Homo sapiens: one gene and its partners. The protein of the gene in region 1 purifies or fractionates together with the protein of each later gene. This does not show direct contact. Each region holds a gene or a part of one and is shown in the gene's direction. Other genes may lie near its edges. The genes, in order: MTPN, DGUOK and NPLOC4.

Region 1 (7,995 bases):
GATCACAGACTGTTTCTGCGATTCCATGTTCATTTGTTCCAGGTATGTCCTTAATCTTGGAAAAATAAACTCCTAAATTGATTGAGGACCTGTCTCAGATACTTTTGGGTTTGCACCACATTATCCCTGTCCTTATCTATTTCTTTTTTTTTTTTTGAAGACAGAGTCTTGCACTGTCACCTGGGCTGGAGTGCAGCAGCGTGATCTCGGCTCACTGCAACTTCCGCCTCCCAAGTTCAAGCGATTCTCTTGCCTCAGCCTCCAGAGTAGCTGAGATTTTACAGGCACCTGCCACCATGCCCGGCTAATTTTTTGTATTTTTAGTAGAGATGGGGTTTCACTATGTTGGCCAGGCTGGTCTCAAACTCCTGACCTCGTGATTCACCCGCCTCGACCTCCCAAAGTGCTGGGATTACAGGCATGAGCCACTATACCCGGCCTCCTTGTCCTTAAGTGAGCACTGGAAAATGTGATCTCCTTAAAGTCTGAGCAGCGTTCTCAGACAACTCTGTCCACAGAAGGTTGAAGCCCCACTCCCACTTGGAGTCTATTTACAGTTTCCTTTAGTCTTGACTGATAGCTATTTTGGCATGTCTCTCAAAAATTTAGCCAGCTTCTTCCATATTTGATTCAAGCTAGCTCCACATACCATGATTGTGTGTGTCTCCACTGCACTAAGTCACAACTTTCTCTTTTAATTCTTTCTTGTAGGTACCTTGAATCTATCCAGCTCTGTCATGGGAAGACCTGTGCCATGTTGTTCAACTGAAAAGATTCATGGGGTACCACTTTAATCTATTCGGAGGTTTTAGTCATGGGTGTGACTATCACACCCGTAATTTGATCCTTGCCAAGAGGTTGAGTTCTAATCAACCTTTGTTGCTCATCTCAGTTTTGTTTTTAATGAATAATAATGAGAATCACTTGCATCTTCTAAACGTGCATGTCTCCAAGTTTATAGCTTCCTATAATCACTTTCTTTCCTAACTGCAAGCTGGACAATTATTTTCTAAACTCATCATTTCCTGTAGTATTGAGACAGGAGAATAGGGTCTGGAGGCACGGAGATTAATTAAATCTTTTTTAATCATCTAAGGCTGATTCACACTGACTTCCTAAAACTAAATCAAAAGGAAAACCCCAACTTCCCATGCCTAAGTAACAAATGGACTCAAGGCTACTCCCTTTGCAACCCCCATCTTTTCTGAGTGTCAGATAAAAAATTGTAAGTACCTCTGACTGGTCCCCTCCTGCAGTCAATCAGGCTGGTCACAGGCCAAGTCTTCCTTTGCATAGGAGTATAACTTTGTAACTTCACTTCAGCCTCTGATTCATCACTTTCTGCAACCAATTAGTCGTTTGCATAGGGTGTAACTGTAACTTTGCTTCAGTCTCTGATTGTTCCCCTCCTGCAACCAATCAGACTGATTGCGGGCCACTACTTCATTTACATAGGGTGTACACCAAGTAACCAACAGGAAACCTCTAGAGTGTATTTAAACCCCAGAAAATTCTGTAACCAGGTCCTTGAGCCACTTTCTCCAGCCTGTTCCCACGCTACAGAGTGTGCTTTCATTTTCAATAAATCTCTGCTTTTGTTGCTTCATTCTTTCCTTGCTTTGTGCATTTTGTCCAATTCTTTGTTCACAGTGCCAAGAACCTGGACACCCTCCACCAGTAACAGTATTTTATATAGTCAATAGTTACTGATACATGCCACCAGCTTTCCATTTTCTGGCCTTTTCCTCTAGAACTACTAGACCTTCCCCATATTATTACAGTTTTGCCAAAGGTTTCACTCCTGTGAGTATGAATCACCATCTTTACGGCTTCTCCTATCACTTCCTTTGTTGTATACTCCCCAGCCACTGAGCCAATGCCATTTATTTAAAGGTTTTGTTCTAGTAACATTCCCATTCTGACACTAATTTCTGTGTTAGTCAAGATTGGTTCAGTGTTCCTCTAGTAATAAACACCACAATTTCAATGGCTGAAAACAATACAAGTTAAATTCATATTCATCCTATATATCCATTATAGGACAGTGAGGGAGCTCTGCTCATTGTAGTTACACAGGAACCCAGACTGACTGTGTAGCCACTATCTTGCATGTTGCTAGTTGCTGTAGTAGAAGGAAAGAGTTCTGAAGGGTCTTACAATGACAAGCCTGGAAGTGACTCATTTCACGTCTGCTCATAACTAATAGGCCAAAATTAGTTACATGATATTATTCAACTACAAGCCAGGAAGAGCAGTTCTCTCTTGTGCCCAGAATGGCAGACAAAGGAATTATTTGTTTAACACCATGAATACTTACCAAAATAGGTAAACAAAAAAGATAATTAAAATACTTGTGACATGTGCTGTAAATGGGGGAAAAGCTGGGCCCTGTAAGTAATTGAAGGACCTATTTAAAGTGGGTGGTCTGGGAGGTCTCTCTGAAGGTTTGCATTGAAACCTCAAAAGTCAGATGGAGTGAACAAGACTTAGATGAAGAACATTCCAGAGAAGAAACAAGAAGCATAAAGGCCTTAGGGTGGAATGAGCTTGGTTTAGCTTGAAACTGACAGAAGACAAGATATTTCAAAATCAAAGAAACAATGGGGGTGGCAAGGGACTGTCATGAGATAGGAGATACTATCACCTACCATCAGCAGTCAGTGCACAGAAGGCCCTGAAGGCCATATCAAGTAGTTAGGATTTTAACCTACCTGCAATAGGAAGCCTTTGAAAGGCCTTAGGACAACAAGTGCATGTTTAAGTTTTAAAAGAGTAACTCCCAAAGTGGGGAATTATCTAGAAAAGGATGAGTGAAAATAGGACACCAACAGGGAGGCTATCATAGCACATAGCATCATAGCAGTGTAGACAGAGATGACAGTGACAGGGATGGGGGATATGTGAGGGTGCAGGGAGTAGTAATAGTGAAGATGGCAAGAAATGAACAAATTTAAGACATATTTTGAAATATTTACTGATGGATTGAATAAGAGAAAAGTTGAGAATGGGAAGAGTGATTATGACTCCCATGTTTCTGGTTTTAGTGATAGGGTGGTTGGCAGCGCCATTTACAGAGATATGTGGGGGACAACTAGGTTTAACATCTACAGGAGACCAGATCCTATTCTGGACATGTTAAGTTTGAGAAATCCAAATGAGTAAGAAGTTAAATATAAGAATAGATCACATAGGAAAAGTCTAGTTAAAGATTTTTTTTTTAGATGATCTTGCTCTGTCACCCAGGCTGGAATGCAGTGGTGCCATCATAGCTTACTGTGGCCTCAAACTCCAGGGCTCAAGTAATCCTCCTGCCTCAGCTTCCCAAGTAGCTGGGAAGGCAGAAGTCCGCCACTGTACCCAACTAATTTTTTTAATCTTTGTGTTTTGTAGAGATGGTGTCTCATTTTGTTGCCCTGGCTGGTCTCCAACTCCTGGCTTCAAGCGATCTTCCAGCCTTGTCCTCCCAAGGTGCTAGGATTACAGGCATGAGCCACTGCACCCGGCCAAAGATATAAATCAAGAGCTCTCAGCATGATGTAACTCAGAAATCACACAGGTGGGAGTGTGTTGGAGAAGAGATGGAGATTCTAGGACTTGCCTAACAAATTCCCCCTTGAGATTTGTTTCCAGAAATCGTATCACTATTGGGTATGTGGATTTGTATTTCTAATTATCAGGGAGTAAAATTAACAAATGACAATCTAGGTAGATGTTAATATTTGGAGGGATTTCTTCTGATTTGAAACCCATTTGCTATTCTACTCTAAATGATAGCAAAAAAAAAAAAAATACATTTCCAAACACTATTGACATCCCCATTTTACACAAGTGGAAAACTGAAGCAGAAGGGGGTTCAGTAACTTGCCCAAGAAGACACAAAATTAGCAAGAAGTGGGACCTGTATCGCAAACTAAACAATTTGGCTCCAGAGTCTGTTTGGAACCCCTACACTGTACGGCAATGGTGGTAAAGTAGCTTAGTTAATGTGTTTAGTGGGTTACAAATAATAGATTATATATATGAGTTTTATATATAGTAATAGTTATATATGTATATATATTATACGTATATTTCTAGCTCCAATAAGAGCTTTTATTGGATCTATGTTCATGTGCGCATGCCTGGATCATTAGGGTTGTGAGGAACAATTCAAGTGGTAGCTATGCACTATGGCATTACAACTAAACCCTAGGAAGAACAGAACTGACTTCACCAGAACAGTCCTGAAGTTTCAAACCATTAAAAACAAACAGTAAATTTAAAAAACGCAAATTGTACTAGACAGTTTGGTTTGCTCCACTTTACGGCATCAAACTGAATGCCTGGACGTCATTTGCTGGTCAGGAAGATGAGTTAATTTTTTTTTTCCTGCCACACACTTAAGTTTTTTGCTCCAGGGAACATTATACATAGTGTTAACACACTCAATTTACATTGTAGTTTTAGTGTTGAAGATTTCCTGGAGGGCAGGAATAGCGTTATTCCATCGTTTTTAGCCCAGTCAGACTGGATGACGGAGAGAGGGAGGGGTGAAAAGGAGGGAGGGAAGGGGAAAAGGCAAGGAAGAAGGAATTCAAATTAAACACTCTTCCTATACATTTTTAGAAGCTGAGCAAGATGCCCTCCAAGATTATGTTTTTTAAAAAGTAAAGTTTTTCCCATTAATGGTGGTGCAGAAGCGTCCTAATCCCATCGAAAGTACTCTCACTCTTCCTCCATTCGCTGTCTTGACCTCCCCCGGGCCTCCTTCATTCTGCCTCCCAGTCCCGCCCACTTGTCGCCGGCTCCTACCCTCCACTCTAGCCTTCCCGGCAGCCTGTACATTGCGCATGCGCACTAGTGGCGTTCGCGCCGCGGACCCAGAGAGAGGCGTTCCGCGGAGGAGAAGAGGAAGAGGAAGTTGGGGGAGGGTCCTAGCGGGGAGTGAACCGGAAGTGTAAAGGTTCCTGCCTCTCCTCGGCCAGGCGGAACCTCTCTGCTGGGCCCGGTGGCCGCAAAAGAACTTTCTTTCTCCCGCCCGAACGGTCGCCGCGGCCAACTGCCTCGCCCGCCTGGCAGCCTAACCCTCCTTCTCTTCTTCTCCTCTCCGGCTTCGCGCGGCCCTGCCTCCCTCTCGCCCGGCGGCATCCGCTTGCTGCTGCCACCGCCTCCTCATCTTCTGCCCGGCCAACCGGCCTGCCCCGCTGCAGTGATGTGCGACAAGGAGTTCATGTGGGCCCTGAAAAACGGAGACTTGGATGAGGTGAAAGACTATGTGGCCAAGGTAAGCGGGGATGAGAAGAGTAGGCGAGAACACGGAGGTGGGCTGGAGATGAGGCTGAGGAAGCTGATGGGAGCTGGACTGCGGGGATGGGGGTGGGCGGGAGGAGAGACTTCCTGGGTGGAGGCGGCACCAAGGAGAGAGGGGCGTCTAGGGAGGAGCTAAACTGAAAGAAGGGTCCAGGTAACTTGGTAGCGTTCTGTGTCAGGTAACTGCTGCGTTAATACAGTTAGGCGCTACCTGACTTCCTGGCCTCTTGGGGGAGGGGAGGAGTGGTGTCTGGCTCATCCAGAGTTTCTTCTGCGCACTGATCATTTGAGTTTGGCCCTCTTCTACACCAAAGTTACTTAAACCTTTCTTTGAATGAGGTAATTCTCCATCTTGGACTTACCCATTACTAAATGAAGTAACCTAAGTAATTAGGATCAGAGGAACATGTTTTTTAACTCTCGGCCTGGTGTGAAGTTGAAGAATTCATTGACCGTGAAAAGAGTACCGAAAATAGAAATAGTTAAAATTCTGAAACTGAGTATCACTTCACTGTGGTGTCTTAACTTTGGGTGTGGCCTTTTTCCTTTCCCCCACCACAACAAATACATATTTGCTTCAAGTGGTAAGGTTGTCAACTGGCATCTGGGAATGTTTAAGGTATCTGAATAGTTTTTAAACAAGCATGTTAACTTCAGTTATTCCATTCTTCTCCCTGATTTCACCTGAAATGCTTACATGTGTAGTAAATAGCAATGCAGTTTAGTGGCAGTGTATTTGGGGGGTAAAATCATGATGAAGAAAGACAAACTCAAACCTCAGCCCCAAATATAAAACTGAATCGACATTGTGGCAGAGTGGGAAACTTAAAATTCCAAGCTAGCCTGTCTTTCCATCCTGAAACTGTGCCTTTGTAATTATGAGAGAACTTAACATGTGATTTTAATTTAGTGATAATCTAAAATGAATCTTCCAAAACAAGTATAATTTTATGACAACCACGGATGGCATCTTGCTCACCTTCTAAAAGTGTGAGAACCCAGTCTAGATTTTAACTCTTCAAAGAATAGGACCTGACCTGGGTTTTTGCTTCAGAGGCTGTGTTAGGAAGCAAGTAAGCGAAGCAGTTTCTTAAAACTTACAGGATTGTGCAAGGCAAACTGCTGAAGGTTTTTACTTTATTTAATGCCATTACAATTTAGACTTTTTGGATGCTGCTTACCTGCTTAGTTTTTTGCAGTGGAGTTTTAGGACAGGCTGTCTTCTCGTCACTGCCTTCTCAGCTGGTAGCCAACTGAAACTTGACTTATTGGCTATTTCAATATAAAGCTAAAAGGTAGAAATTATTTGGTACACTTACCAGTGGTGGGACACTGCAATACTCTGGAAGTAAGTGGGCTTTTGTTTTCCTGTCATGGTGGAACCTAGGTTGTTTGATATACTTGAAATACAAAAAGTTGATTAAGTACTAACTGAACTTACAGCTACCAAAATAACACAATGTATTTAGTGTTTTCCTGACACATTATTTTATGTCATCCTTGTGAATACTGGGAAGTAAGTCCTATTATTGGTCCCATTTTACAGATTACTGAGATGCAGGATACTTAAGAAAAGTTATGGAGATGGTAAATTGTGAAGCAAGAACTAAATTGCTGACTCCAAAACTGAAACTCTTTAACTGCTCCACGCACTATCTCTCAGTCTAAGATCTAATTGTGAAAGCGTATCATACCAAGATTTCTAGTAGGACATTCCCAGGGTCCACATTCAGGCAGGTAAATTGTGCCCAAAGAATTCTCAACTACACAAAAATATTTATATGAAAATATATGCCAATAAAGATGGATTAATTTATTTCCAATTAGTTTTATAATTAGGTTAGGTTATCATGTTCAATTTGATTATTTTCCCTATATTACTACCGTAGCCTGTTCTTCATTAATGTAAAAAATTTGCATAAGAGGGAGGGTAGACATTCAGAAAAAGCAAAAGGGAGTATTGAAAGTTGGACTATCCAAAAAGATATGACTGTAACTGTAATGTAATCTGATGTACAGAGCATTGAGCTTTATCCTTTCTTAGTTTTGAAGATTTCATAAAGTATCTTTCACTTTGTTAATGAGAAATAATAACAAGAACTGAAGTTTATACTGACTCAGCTCCCTTACGGTGCCCATTTATACTTTCAGGTCCTTATTACAGTTTCTTCTGCCCCACAGCTGTCTTCCCTGCTTATTTATTGACTCACATTTTTCATCTACCAATTTGTGAACACTCACTTTTTGAGTTTCTGTAATGTGCATCTATCTGAGTAGGTGTGTACAAAGAAAATACTAAAGAAACACTTAGACCTGTCTAGTCTTCATTCTCAGGGGTGAGAGTCTATTTTAAAAACTCTCCTCAACATTCCTGTGAAGATCTCTCATATTGTTAACCTAAGAATCTACCTGTAAGAGTAAGATAAGCATTTTAGTATTCCCCTCCTCCTCCTCTTTTTTTTGGAAACAGGGTTTTTTTGTTTTTGTTTTTCGGAGACAGGGTCTTTGCTTTGTCGCCCAGGCTAGAGTGCAGTGTCGTGATCATAGCTCACTGTAACTTCAGCCTCCTGAGCAGCTGGGACCATAGATGTACACCACGACACCCAGCAAATTTTATTTTTTGTAGAGACTGGATCTCACTTTGTTGTACAGGCTGGTCTCAAACTCCTAGCCTCAAGCGATCTTCTGGCCTCGGCCTCCCAAAGC
Region 2 (7,106 bases), on another chromosome or scaffold:
CAAGTAGTTGGGATTACAGGCATACCACCATGCCCGGCTAATTTTGTATTTTTAGTAGAGACAGGCTTTCACCATGTTGGCCAGACTGGTCTCGAATTCCTAACCTCAGGCGATTCACCCACTTTGGCCTCCCAAAGTGCCGGGATTACAGGCATGAGCCACCATGTCCAGCCCCTAGGGAGAATTTCTTAAGCTGATACTCTTTTCTTTTTCTTTAAAGAGTCTCACTCTGTCACCCAGGCTGGAATGCAGTGGCCCTATTATAGCTCACTGCAGCATTGCTTCTCAGCCTTTTGGCTAAGATCAAGTGTATAGCTCACTGTAGCACTGAACTCCTGGGTTCAAGCAAATCCTCCCACCTCAGCCACCAGAGTAGCTGGGACTACAGGCATGCACCACTATGCCCAGGTAACTTTTAAATTTTTTTGTGGAGACAGAGTCTCACTATGTTGCCCAAGTTAGTCTTGAACTCTTGGCCTCAAGCAATCCTCCTGCCTTGGCCTCCCAAAGTGCTTGGGTTATAGGTGTGAGCCCCCATACCTAGCCCTTAAACTGATACTCTGTAAGGATCTTCTAATTCACTAATTAGGTTTACTGCATTATACAGTCTGCTAGCTACCATCTTCATTATCTTCATTGGGTGTTTTACTTGGGCAATTGCATTTTTCACCTCTAAGAAAGTTATTTTCTTATTGTTCCTTTTTTATGATAGCTTATTCTTGTTTTATCAGCAAGGCCGTATCTTTTGTTTTCTCCTGTTTCTGACAACAGCCCTGTCTGAGCACAGAGACTAGTCCTCTCCTTTTGAATTGCTAAGTATTTTTGTGTCCAATTATTGTTCATCTGTTTGCTTATATTTTTGGAAGGATGTTTGCATTTGTTCTGTAGCTGAGATGGGTTCTTTCAGAAATTGTGTTGGTTTCTTTTACATTTTTGGTTCCAGAAGAGTCTCTCTTTGATAGCCCAAAGCCCACTGGTGCAATAGAACCCACCAGTCAACCTATTGCATCTGCCAGCACAGCACTCCGCTCCACATACAGTGTGTGAATTGTGCAACAGGCCCAGGGCTGCTCCCAACCATCTCTAGTGACACCACAGAGACTACAGGAGACACAAATTTGTCCTCCTACTTCTACCTCCAGCTCTTAGTCAGGGGCCACGTGTGAGGCTGGTATGTGTGGGCTTGCGGGGTCAGAAGGAGGGAAATCCCGAAAATACCTCTGAGTTAAATGCTTTTCTGGTCCACTCTGCTCTATATGTGTTGTTTCTGCTGAAGCCTTTCAAAGGGCTAAGACCCTTCTTTGGAATCTAATAGTGCTATTTTGCCAAATTGGACTTCTTACTGTTGTTGAATCTTTTTTCTCCTTCTGTCCTGTTGTCTCTACCTGAAGTACAATCTTCTTAATCTCCATTTCCATCTGTGAGAATTCTACTCATCAGTTACTTCCCAGCTTAATGCCACTTTCTTTCAGAAACTCCCTGAGATTCCTTCCACCATCAGTAATCGTCCCTTCATCACATGTTCTGCCTTACATTCCAGCTTCGTACATCCTCATCACCCTCTTCCTTTTTGCACTGTGAGCTCTTTGAGTTCAGGAACTGTCTTGTTCACCTTTAGATGGAGGGTGTTGGAATGATGAGGTTAGAGGAAGCCAGGTTTGAGTCCCTTCAACATTTACTCGCCATGAAACCTTGCACAAGTAAGTTACTTAACCTCTGAGTGGATTTTCCCCTCTGGAAAATGGGCATTACAACAGTACCTACCTCATGAAGCTGTTTTGAAGATTAATTGAGGTAACATACCACAGTAAAGGTTGAAATAAATGTTAATTCCTTTTTCTATACCCTTACGGTACCCTGCCCATGTAGCGCCTCATCCACACAGGCCTTCAGTGATTGGTGATTGAATAAAAAATACAGATCCAAAGTGCTTTTGTACAAAATTCACTTTTGCATTGTTGAGTCAATGGCAGATCCAGAAAAGAATCTGGGGCTGGGCGTGGTGGCTCACGCCTGTAATTCCAGCACTTTGGGAGGACAGGAGTTCGAGACCAGCCTGGCCAACATGGTGAAACCCTGTCTCTACTAAAAATACAAAAATTAGCTTGTCGTGGTGGCGGGTGCCTGTGATCCCAGCCACTCAGGAGGCTGAGGCAGGAGAATCACTTGAACTCGGCTGGGGTGGGGAGGAGGGCGGAGGTTGCAGTGAGCCGGGAGGTTGCAGTGAGCTGAGATCGTGCCACTGCACTCCAGCCTGGGTGGCAGAGTGAGACTCTGTCTCAAAAAAAAAAAAAAAAAATCCGGGGCTGCTGAACATCCCACACTTGTGCCCACTTGCACATGCCGAGTAAGTGGAACGTTTTAATTATGTTTCATAAAGTCTCTAGAATTAAGTAGGGTTTTGTTTTAACAAACAAATTGTACTCCTTATATGAAAGATAAAATTCTATTTGGTGGTTGATTGGTTGGATTTTCAAATAAGCAGTTGCTTTCTGGTTTGCCTTGACATTTTATAAACATAACTACAGATGGAAGCTCAAAAGAGAGGCAACATAGTGTTATAGTGGAAAGATTTGATTCAGAGTTAAATTTTAGATGGTTGTTGACTGTTAACTCCTCCCCAGACAGACTTCACAAATCCCTCAATCAGTGATCGTGTTAATTCTATATATGGTTCTTCCTCTGCTTTTGTTATATTGAAGTGGCATGTCATCTCCCTTTAGAGAGTCTTATTTAATAGGTAGGAAAATCTCATACCTGATTATGAAATTTTGACTAAGCTGGGGATCTGATTCTACCTTTTTGGTGGAAGGAAACTTTTGTAATTTCTTCTTTCATTGATTATTAAACCTGTTTGGGGAGGTAGGGGTGTGTGTGGAGGGGTGTACCCCATGGAGTAAATATGCTTTCTAGGAAATTTTCTTCTTTTTTTCATCTCCCTCTAGGCCTGCACTGCCCAAAGTCTTGGAAACTTGCTGGATATGATGTACCGGGAGCCAGCACGATGGTCCTACACATTCCAGACATTTTCCTTTTTGAGCCGCCTGAAAGTACAGCTGGAGCCCTTCCCTGAGAAACTCTTACAGGCCAGGAAGCCAGTACAGATCTTTGAGAGGTCTGTGTACAGTGACAGGTAAAATGCCAAGCCCTCCACCAGTCACAAGCCCCATGCTCAGTGCTGCCTGTTTGATCTTGCACAGATCCTGCACTGCTATGGTCACTGATGATTATAATTTGAAAAATTATCTTCTTTTTTAAAGACAACACTATACAGATTTGTCCAGAGTTGTACTTCTACCAGATTGTCATCTATGTCAAGAAAGGAAATTGGGTTTTTCATCAACTGAATGCTTTGAATTTCTTACATTGCTACTGATTACCTTATGTTTCCTTATTTTCTGGCATGGAGCAAGCTGGTAGCCACCTAATGTAACCATCACATGCTAAAAGGCACATAATAGACACTTAAGTAGCAGTGTATATTCTAAGAAATCAGATGATTCAGTGGTTGATTATCCCCTTTAAGAAAAAAGCAGACGAAATTAAAATTTGTGTTCCTGAAAATGATATAAGAGATATTTTCAGCCTTTTTTTTTTATTGTTCAAGAAAGGATGCTTAGGCAGAAATAGCACATCTGAGAAACTGGCTTCTGTCTCAGATTTAGCCCTTTTTGACCCCTTCTTCTGTGAGAGGGCTTTTTGCTGGCCAGAGTCTAGTGGACATCAGTGCCTGTGTCAGATCAGGGATGGGCATCATCCTGACCACCTGAGGGAGTGAGATGTGAAGTCACTTTGAATGCAAGCTAGCAGCACCCTGGGAAGTGAGCCCATCTGCTCCAGAAGAGCTAGGCCGTGCAGGCTCCGGAATGCCTGGCTCTGCTGCAGAGACCAGGCTGTGACTTGAGGTTAAGCCGCCTAGAGACAAAGTCAGGATGGCTTGATCTGGACACTGCTGGAGTTTTTCTTATCTGAAGCCTATGAATGACCAGTGTCAGTGTGAAATAGTGCTTTCAAGCAAAACGATCTTTCTTAAGGCTCTTTGAATTATCAAAATGGGAAGTGGTACATTTTCATTGTCACTGCTGAAGACACTCAGTTGGTTACTCTTTTAATTCCAAATTAGACAAACTAGTTCTATTTCTTAGTGCTTCCGGAAAGCCTCCTAGAAGAAAAAAAATAAGGATACATTTGTAAATGACAAGTGATTTTTCTGACTTTACCCTAAAATCATGGAAGATATGTAAAACAAACCCTATAGGCTATCCGTTCCTTGTGTACGTACCCCGAGAGAGCCTACTTTTTATAAAAGCTAAATATGTGAATTACAAATGGCTGGGCTATAGGTTTTACTTCTTTTTCAGCTGTTGGATATCCCACCTGCCTGTTTTCCTCTCTTCTCTCCCAAGCCATGCCTCTCGGACTCCGAAGTTGAATTACATATAACCACATGGGTTGTTTGGAAACATAGTCAGTCTTTATTTCTAGCCGCTTCATGAAGTAGGTGTGTGAGACCCTCAGAGGAAAATAGAGAAGTAGAAACACTTTGTTAATTAGAAATGCATTAAGAAGCTGCATGGATCTTAACCTTTGCTTGTAAAGGAAGAGGTAATAATTGATTACACTGTGGGCATACAACATTCCAGGTGCTATCTTCAGTGAGGGCATTTTCGAGACAGAAAGGAAAACTAATCACAAGTTCTAATCCCGAGGGTAATTTAGACTTTGTTCACTTGCACAGATTTATTGGATGCCTCCTGTGTTGAAGCACCAAGGCTGGCCCTGGGGCTGCAGCAGTGAATAAGGCAGACCCAGTCCCTGCCTAACAGGGACTGAACACATGCTCACGTGTGTGATATTTGTTCCAAAGGAGGAACACAGGTTATCTGGGAGAGTTGATTATAGCGAGGAAGAAATCTTAGTCTTTTCTGTTTGAGTTAAAGGAAACATTAGCATATGGTTTTAGAGCAGAGGCCCTGACTCCTAGATCCTTATGCCCTGTTCTGTCCTGCAGCCCCTGCATTCAGTCTGCAGTACTTCCCTCCCACTCAGCACCACACCCTTCTGCCCCTCACCCCATCACCACCACAAGCTTTGAAGAAATAAAGGAAGTGCTCTTTCTCAAGAAAGCCAAGAACCCCTTTCATAGGGCTTATTAGCAAATCTTTAATTTCTCTTTATAAGATCCTTTTTTGTTTTAAGACAGAGTCTCGCTCTGTCGCCCAGGCTGGAGTGCAGTGGTGTAATCTTGGCTCACTGCAACCTCCGCCTCCTGGGTTCAAGCAATTCTTGTGCCTCAGTCTCCTGAGTAGCTGGGATTACAGGGACACGCCATCATGCCTGGCTAATTTTTGTGTTTTTAGTAGAAACGGGGTTTCACCATGTTGGCCAGGCTGGTCTCAAACTCCTGGCCTCAGGTGATCCGTCCGCCTCAGCCTCCAAAAGTGCTGGGATTACAGGTGTGAGCCACAGTGCGTGGCCACTTTATAGGATCTTAATTTCATCTTCTAGTTATCTGTAAAGAACTCAAAAACATTTTGAGTTTAAAATGTTACCCTTTTATTTGTTCTCATCAACTAGACTATGGCTAAACCATTCCAGACTGGGAAAGTTTACTTGTGGAGTTTCTAAGTTAGCTTCTTCATAGCCTAACAAAAAGCAGTTATAATAATAACTAAGATATCTAGAAGACTATGTGCCAGTCACTCTTCTAAGCACTTTGTGAGGATTATTACAAGACATCATCATAACAGGCTGAGAGGATTTAGGTGACTTGCCTGAAGTTACATAGCTAGTGAATGTTTCAGCCAGTATCAGACCCTGAAATGTTATTCTGGAAGGTATTCTCTCAGTGGTGACACTCACAGCCTTGCAGTCTGTACTTTCCTGAGCCATCATACACAAGGGTTCTGAATTTTATTTTCTCCAAAGTGGCCAGTTGCTGAGCATTGCCTTGGAAACTGGAGTCCCTTGCTTAGGATGCAAATTGTGTTTTTTATTAAAATGCCTGAGGTTTGAAAGCAGGATTGACCCCTGGTTTGTCTGAAGCCATGGTTTATGTTTAGCTCTGATTTCCTGTTTACCAGATGCTCTTTTGGTTGTAGAAATAAGCAGGGGGCAAAGCTGGTTTGATTTTTAGCTTTAGCTTTCTTTTATCTGAACTAGAAACTCAGCAGCAGAGGAAGCAAGCAAGCAGGAGCTCATAATGCATTTTGCAGGAGAGTCTGCTTTCTTAGTAATACTGAAATTAGTAGGAAATGCATTTTCTGCTCCATAGAGGACACCACATAAATACTATTTCTTCTGCATGTCTCAGCTAAACAAAAGGATGGCTCAGTAGCCTGGAGACTTAGAAGCCCTCAGTCCTTGTATGAAATTTAGTGGGTGGATTTATACTGGATTCACTTGTTTATTTGTTTTGGGCCTTGCTATAATAATAATAAGGAAATCTCAAAAGTTCAAGTTTACATATATTTGCTGTATGTTCTGACTGGTTTCTAGCAGAGAAAATTGTTAGGGACCAATGATACTATCTTCTGTCTCTTTTCTTCCAGTGAATCAATCCATCTGGAAAGGTGTGATTTCAGCCTCCAAAGTCTAGATCCTATTTCCCATCTTAGTACTGAGCAGGGAGGGAGATATGGGTTAAGAATTCAGATTTCTTAAGGATTGATGAGGAGCTAGAAAGGTTAAGTGGTTTGAACAGACATGGAACAAGTTGGTTATTGATTTTTCTGCTTCTCTCTCTCTCTCGTGCCTTTCATTCCATTTCCCATTCTCCTGCCCTCCCCATTCCCATCCCACTTCCAACCAGGTATATCTTTGCAAAGAATCTTTTTGAAAATGGTTCCCTCAGTGACATCGAGTGGCATATCTATCAGGACTGGCATTCTTTTCTCCTGTGGGAGTTTGCCAGCCGGATCACATTACATGGCTTCATCTACCTCCAGGCTTCTCCCCAGGTAACACTGAACCTACAACCTTAGACTTTAGGGCCATATGAAACCTAAGAAGTGACATTCTCCAAGCCCCTGATTTTCTGGTTGGAGAGATTAGAGCGTAGACATTACCTGCAGCACAGAGAGCAGTGGGGGACACCCTCCTGTCCC
Region 3 (7,106 bases), on another chromosome or scaffold:
TTATCAGTTTCCACCTCAAAATATGTTCCCATAAAAAATTTTGAAGCATTTGGGTACAAAGAGACTGGAAAGGTATTGGGGGAGTTGGGGGCCTCACACCAAGTCTTTACTGTGATGTCCCCTGGAGATGCTGATTCCCGTGCAGAGTGGGGTGTTAATCAGCAGCTGCAGGGGAGGGAGGAGGGAAGGGGCAGGTGGTTGTGTGTGCGCATCCATGTGAGGTGAGTGCTGTGTCTCTCATTTCATAGCGGTTGGATGATTTTGACCTGCCACACTAGTGTGCGCTCTCCATCCCTGCAGCAAGCATTTCACTTGCAGAAGATGCTGTGCCTTGGAATATTCCCTCCTCACCTGGGGCTATATGAAGTGCTTATGCATATGTACATTGTTTATTTTAGATTTTTTGCAATTCCTTTTAAATAAACCAGTGAGAAGGATCTGAGTTTATACTTGGCCATGTGAAATTGTCTGAGCGAAGGTTGTCTCTGCAGTGGGGTCTTTTTTAAAATGCATCACTCTGTAGATGTGACGGGGTGCTGACTTTGCGGTATTGGGATTCCAAATGCTGCATTAGCAACTTTTATGTCTTAGATCAGAGAGCCATAAATGGTGCTCTCCTGCCATTGGCATGGAGCCACTTTGTAGCCATAGCCATTAGCCGGCATGCCTCTTCCATTTGTGTCTCCTCCCAGGGGCCTGGCACTGGCTTGCTTGCATGATCTGTGTCTTCATGGCTTCATTAGCAGCTTTTGAGAGCGTGTGTGTGTGAGAGAATTCTGAGCCATCATCACTTAGATCCTGCCTATTAGGAAGCACAGAGGCCACCTCTGTTCCGCAGCACAGGGCTCATACGCATGTAAGAATTCTGACCCCACTTAGAAAGGGGTCTGACTGAGCCCCGGAGGGACGGCCGCCGGCGCCCTCGTAAACCAGCATACCTCTCCTTCAGATTGTGCGTGTTGTGCTCCCAAGGCTTCTGTGACTGAAAATGTTAGAAAGCCGTGGGACAAGGTTTTTTCATTGTTGTTATTTCCCAAAATGCATATGAAGTAGGTATTTTCCAAACTTGGATTATTTATGCACCGCTCTCAGGCCCTTTGCCATGTTCACGTACCAGCTTTGTTATTATTTATTTAACACTTTTCTTTTTTTTTTTTTTTTTGAGATGGACTCTCGCTCTGTCACCCAGGCTGGAGTGCAGTGGCGCGACGTCCGCTCACTGCCAGCTGCGTCCCCCCGGTTCACGCCATTCTCCTGCCTCAGCCTCCCAAGTAGCTGGGACTACAGGCGCCCGCCACCACGCCTGGCTAATTTTTTTGTATTTTTAGTAAAGACGGGGTTTCACCGTGTTTGCCAGGATGGTCTCTATCTCCTGACTTGTGATCCACCCGCCTCGGCCTCCCAAAGTGCTGGGATTACAGGGCGCAAGCCACCACACCTGGCCTATTTAACACTTTTCTTTAAATGGACTTGGCCAGGCGCAGTTGCTCACACCTGTAATCCCAGCACTTTGGGAGGCTGAGGCAGGTGGATCACCTGAGGTCAGGAGTTTGAGACCAGCCTGACCAATATGGTGAAATCCCGTCTCTACTAAAAATACAAAAATTAGCCAGGCATGGTGGTGTGCACCTGTAGTCCCAGCTACTTGGGAGGCTGAGACAGGAGAATCGCTTGAAACGAGGAGGCGGAGGTTGCATGGAGCCGAGATCATACCTCTGCACTCCAGCCTGGGTGACAGAGTGAAACTCCGTCTCAGAAAAAAAGAAAACAAAAAAAAAACTATTTTATTTATTTATTTATTTGAGTGGAATTTCACTCTCGTCTCCCAGGCTGGAGTGCAGTGGCACAATCTCAGCTCATCGCAACCTTTGCCTCCCAGGTTCAAGCAATTCTCCTGCCTCAGCCTCCCTGGTTCCTGGCATTACAGGTGCTTGCCACCACGTCCGGCTAATTTTTGTATTTTTAGTAGAGATGGGGTTTCACCATGTTGGCCAGGCTTGTCTTTAACTCCTGACCTCAGGTGATCCACCCATCTCAGCCTCCCAAAGTGTTGGGATTAGAGGTGTGAGCCACTGCCTTTGGCCAATAAACTACTTACATTGACTTTGAGTTCATTCACTTTTATCTTTGGTTTGTGTCATTTTTTTTTTTTTTTTTTTTTTTGAGACGGAGTCTCGCTCTGTCGCCCAGGCCGGACTGCGGACTGCAGTGGCGCAATCTCGGCTCACTGCAAGCTCCGCTTCCCGGGTTCACGCCATTCTCCTGCCTCAGCCTCCCGAGTAGCTGGGACTACAGGCGCCCGCCACCGCGCCCGGCTAATTTTTTGTATTTTTAGTAGAGACGGGGTTTCACCTTGTTAGCCAGGATGGTCTCGATCTCCTGACCTCATGATCCACCCGCCTCGGCCTCCCAAAGTGCTGGGATTACAGGCGTGAGCCACCGCGCCCGGCCTGGTTTGTGTCATTTTAAGCAGTGGATACCCATGAAGTCACAGGTTTGATGTGCGGGTCAGTTTTTTCTAATTCATATCAACATAAGTAGTAAACTTCTGGGTGTGGTGGTGTACACCTGGAGTCCCAGATACTCGGGGAGGCTGAGGTGGGAGTGCTTGAGCCCAGGAGGTGAAGGCTGCAGGGAGCCACGATCACCACTGCACTCCAGCCTGGGCGATAGAGTGAGAGCCTGTCTTTAAACAAAACAAAACAACAATTAAAATATAAATGTTTATCCATGTGCCATCTGGAATATAACTCCACGTGGGCAGGGAAACACTCTGTTAAAGTAGGACGTGCATGTGAGACAGCAGCAGCGGAACACAGACATCCTCACTGCTCTGCCTTTTTCTGCCTTGTACTCTCCTCAGATGCCGCCACGGCCCTTTGGGGAAATGCGTGCACTGCGTCCCTCTAGAGGTGAGAGTCTCTGCGGAGTAAGTTCTGGGCCAGTGTGGGGGGCTGCGGGTAGACAGCTGTCTTAAGTGCTTGCCCTGAGTCCACGCACTTGGCTGTAGTGAGTGGTTCAAAGAACTTACCTATTTATTGCCCTGGGCCTCATATTCCCCTAGTGCAAGCTGCACACAGGACGAGCCTTTATTTATGGGAGTGACCTTCTCGCTGGATTATGAATGGCTGAAGCATTTGTGTGGCTGTGATAAAGGGGCAGCATTTACAGCGGGCTCCCTGGACAATCCTTTTCCGATCTGACACAAAGCTGAGCCTGTCGGCCTCCGTGCTTATCATTGTTGATTTACTTTGCCTTGAATCTCACATCTCTTCTACTGGTTTGTCCTGGTGAGACTGAGAGTTACCGTAATAATGCCGACTGGAACTGTTAATGCTGGGTTTACAGCAGGAAGGCCAGCCCGATTTTCTTCATGAGGCATCTCTTGCCTCATCTTGTGGCATTTCTTTTTGCACAATTTTCCTGAAACTCATTTGACTTAGAGCGTTTTGTGTTTAATAGAGATTCATTTTAATCTTGAAAAGATAACTGGCACACAAAGAAAAACTTGCTTCTGGCTATGTGCAGTGACGCCTGTAGTCCCGACACTTTGGGAGGCCAGGGCCAGAGGATCATTTGAGCCTAGGAATTGTTCAGCCTGGGCAACTCTTTTTTTGTATACCCTGTCTCTACAAAAAATTTAAAAAATTAGCTGGGTGTGGTGGTTCACGCCTGTAGTCCCAGCTACTCAGGAAGCTGAGGCAAGAGAATCACTTGAGGTCGAGGCTGCAGTGAGCCATGATTGCACCACCATACTCCAACCTGGGCAACAGCATGAGACCCCATCTCTAAAACAGTTAAATTGGCCAGACTCAGTGGCTCACGCCTGTAAAGCTAACACTTTGGGAGGCCAAGGCGGGTGGATCATGAGGTCAGGAGTTTGAGACCAGCCTGGCCAATATGCTGAAACCCCGTCTCCACTAAAAATACAAAAATAAGCTGGGCGTGGTGGCGTGCACCTGTAGTCCTAGCTACTTGGGAGGCAGAGGCAGAAGAGTTGCTTGAACCCAGAGGTGGAGGTTGTAGTGAGCAGAGACTGTGCCACTGTGCCACTGCACTCCAGCCTGGGCGACAGAGTGAGACTCCGTCTCAAAACAAACAAACAAAAAACAATTAATTAAAAAAAGAAAAACTTGGTTCTGACTCAGAGTGGTAAGGGAGACCCTAGTACCTGCTTTCACTGTGGGCCTTGACTTGCCAAGGCCATGCTGCTGGCCTCCCCCTGTGCGTAGCAGAGGCTCAGCGCCTGGAGTGACCGGCACGTGTGAGACTGCACTCGCTTACTCTGTGTCTTGGCAGCCATTCGATGAGGACTATCTAAACCATCTCGAGCCTCCCGTGAAGCACATGTCCTTCCACGCCTACATCCGGAAGCTGACTGGAGGGGCTGACAAGTAAGCAACTTGCTGTAACCTGGTTGTGCGTAAATTCCTTTTTGTGTAGCTGGCAGTTGTTGCTTATAGCCAGTGAACGTGTGAATGAGAGAAGTAAAGATGAGAAGGGGTCACACGCCTTTGAAAGTTACCGTGGTTCTATATTTATTTATTTATTTTTTATGTACTCATATATGTTTTTAAGAGATGGGGTCTCACTATGTTGCCCAGGCTGGTCTAGAACTCCTTGGCTCAAGTGATCCTCCTGCCTTGGTTTCCCCAAAGTGCTGGATTACAGGTGTGAGCCACCTCGCCTGGCCAACCTGGTTCTAGAAGGGAGCTAGCAAGGCAGAGCGACTGTGCAGGCGCCTGGCTGCGTGGCCACAGTGCAGTATCAGACAGAGGCTGTCCCCACACACACCACCCCAGCAAGTTAGCATCTGTGATGGTGGCCTGTTGATTCTGTGGTCTGAGTTCATTCTCTGCTTTTCAGAAAAACAACTACCCTGTGAGAATCTCAGCTTCCCCACCTCAGTGCCTGGTAACCCTTTCCCCAGAGCCTGGCCTCTGAGTCAGCTTGGTTTTCAGCCACAGCAGGGGCTGCAGCCACTAATCCTCATGGTACCACAGTAGTTGCCCACAGGCTCAGCCAGGTGGGCAGAGGTGGTAACAGTGGCCAGAAAGGGGTGAACTGAGCATTTTGATTTCTTTTAAGCCATGGCAAGCCCTTGCCTGTATGACCTTCTCCTGTTGGCTCTCTGTACACCCTACCAGAAAGTAGCAGGCTTCAGCTATTATTTTATAATTCCTGTCAGTGCAACGAGGAGATGGTGGCTGAACTGAAGTCAGCAACATTTTGTGAAGGATGTCATATTCGCCTGATTGTAGCTTTTCTCTGACAACCTGCTGACATCCTAAAATGACTTTTTAAAAATGTTAGACCAGAAGAAAAAACCTGCTAGAAACCCACTGTTGCTTGTCAGTGGGGAAAGCTGTGGAACTCTCTGGACTAAGGAGTGGGTGCAGATTGATTGTAGTGAAAGAGACTTGGTCAGCCTTTCTCAGTCTAGGTCAAGGAACACAGTCTCTAGTGGGGGCGTGTTTGTGGCTGCTGTTAGCATGCAGATTCAGTGACGAGTCTTTGCTTCCTAGATGCTATGATACCAAAAATGGCTCACCACCAAAAATGATCAGTATGTGAGGTAATGCATATGTTAATTAGCTCAATTTAGCCGTTCCACAGTGTGGACATGTTTCAGAATATCATTTCGTACACTGTAAATATATCGTTTTTATTTGAAAAACAAAACCTCACGTCTACCTTAAAGATACAGATTTCTTTTTTTTTTTTTTTTGTCAGTTATATTTCAATAAAGCTGGAGAAAAAGAAAAAGTTCAGAGTAGGGTCCAGGATTTTCTCATTGACAGTCTTCAACAGTAGTTTTTATTTTAGCCTAAAGCAGAGTAAAGATGCCTTAATTATATATCCTAATCAGATTTTTCCCATGAATAAGAATTTTTTACAAATATCTAAGTACTGGGCTAATGTCAAAGTTTCTGACAATTTAATGAAACCTGTAGGAGCCTCATGCCCGCTCAGTGGCACAGGTGAGATCAGTAGATATTCTACAGTATTCTTGAAAGCTTTCTCGGATGTTAGTGATAGATGGTAAAAAACACCACAGTTTGGTAGGAAAGTAGTTGTGTGTTCCTGTATGGTTGAAGTATGTGGGACAGAAGCTGGGATTCGGAATGTGCTGGAACTGTAGGTAGAGCTTCCATTAGAATCATCCTTAGCCCATCTTCCCTGCTGCTGCCACGTGCTTAGCTCCTGAGACACTGTTCAGGAGGTATAAGATACTTAGCATGTCATTTCCAGCCTCTTGCTCAACTTTTCACCAATGTGATGTTTAAGTTGCTTCTCTTCTATGTAGGGGGAAGTTTGTTGCCCTGGAGAACATCAGCTGCAAGATTAAGTCAGGGTGCGAGGGGCACCTCCCGTGGCCGAATGGCATCTGTACTAAGTGCCAGCCGAGCGCCATCACGCTGAACAGACAGGTGAGATGTTCCCTGTCTGTCTAGATTTGTTTTCATGGCTGAGAAACGGATATTTCCAGAAGAGCCCCTTGGAGTGGAATGCTATTAGCACTATGCGTGGTGGATTTTCAGTACTTTTTGATGGACTGAATGATCCTTTTGTGGAAGTGGTACACTGAATATATCATTTTTAAGGCTTCTTGCTCTTGGAGATATGGAGTGCGCGCCCTCAGTTCTCTGTTTTGCTGGCTCATATGGAGGCAGAATGTTCCTGATGATTATTTAAAATCCTCAGTGGTTGTGAGGAAACTGGCTCTGAAGGTTGGTAAAGGGGCACCCCTTGGACCAGCTCTGAGCACCTGTCCAGGCTGGCTTAAGGAGAGAATGTGGCTCAGGAAGGAGGGAGCGTTCCGGCCTTTCTGGATGTTCTGCTGTCCTTGTCCCGCCTCTGAGTAGCCTGCCTCGCCTTCCTCCTGCCGCTGTGCCCTTAGAGAAAACGGCTCCTTAGAGAGAATTCCGTGGCCTCCTCGACTTTTTTGGAAACCTCCTATTCTCTATTCCTTTTTTCTTCTTGAAAACTACTTTATTTTGGCCGGGCAAGGTGGCTCACACCTGTAATCCCAGCACTTTGGGAGGTTGAGGTGGGCGGATCACCTGAGGTCAGGAGTTCAAGACCAGCCTGGCCAATATGGTGAA

What was found.
Region 2: the proteins of MTPN (region 1) and DGUOK purify together in Homo sapiens (affinity purification with mass spectrometry; 2 studies listed by BioGRID and IntAct, with this or other methods). This does not show direct contact.
Region 3: the proteins of MTPN (region 1) and NPLOC4 fractionate together in Homo sapiens (co-fractionation; 2 studies listed by BioGRID). This does not show direct contact.

Annotation. Positions count from the first base shown.
Region 1 is NC_000007.14:135,974,297-135,982,291, reverse strand, and holds the start of MTPN (myotrophin), read left to right. Parts: upstream 1-4,932; 5' UTR 4,933-5,191; coding exon 5,192-5,263; intron 5,264-7,995. UniProt on the Homo sapiens protein: Promotes dimerization of NF-kappa-B subunits and regulates NF-kappa-B transcription factor activity. Plays a role in the regulation of the growth of actin filaments.
Region 2 is NC_000002.12:73,943,774-73,950,879, forward strand, and holds part of DGUOK (deoxyguanosine kinase, mitochondrial isoform a precursor), read left to right. Parts: intron 1-2,945; coding exon 2,946-3,133; intron 3,134-6,811; coding exon 6,812-6,959; intron 6,960-7,106.
Region 3 is NC_000017.11:81,606,016-81,613,121, reverse strand, and holds part of NPLOC4 (nuclear protein localization protein 4 homolog), read left to right. Parts: intron 1-2,863; coding exon 2,864-2,912; intron 2,913-4,299; coding exon 4,300-4,394; intron 4,395-6,307; coding exon 6,308-6,431; intron 6,432-7,106. UniProt on the Homo sapiens protein: The ternary complex containing UFD1, VCP and NPLOC4 binds ubiquitinated proteins and is necessary for the export of misfolded proteins from the ER to the cytoplasm, where they are degraded by the proteasome.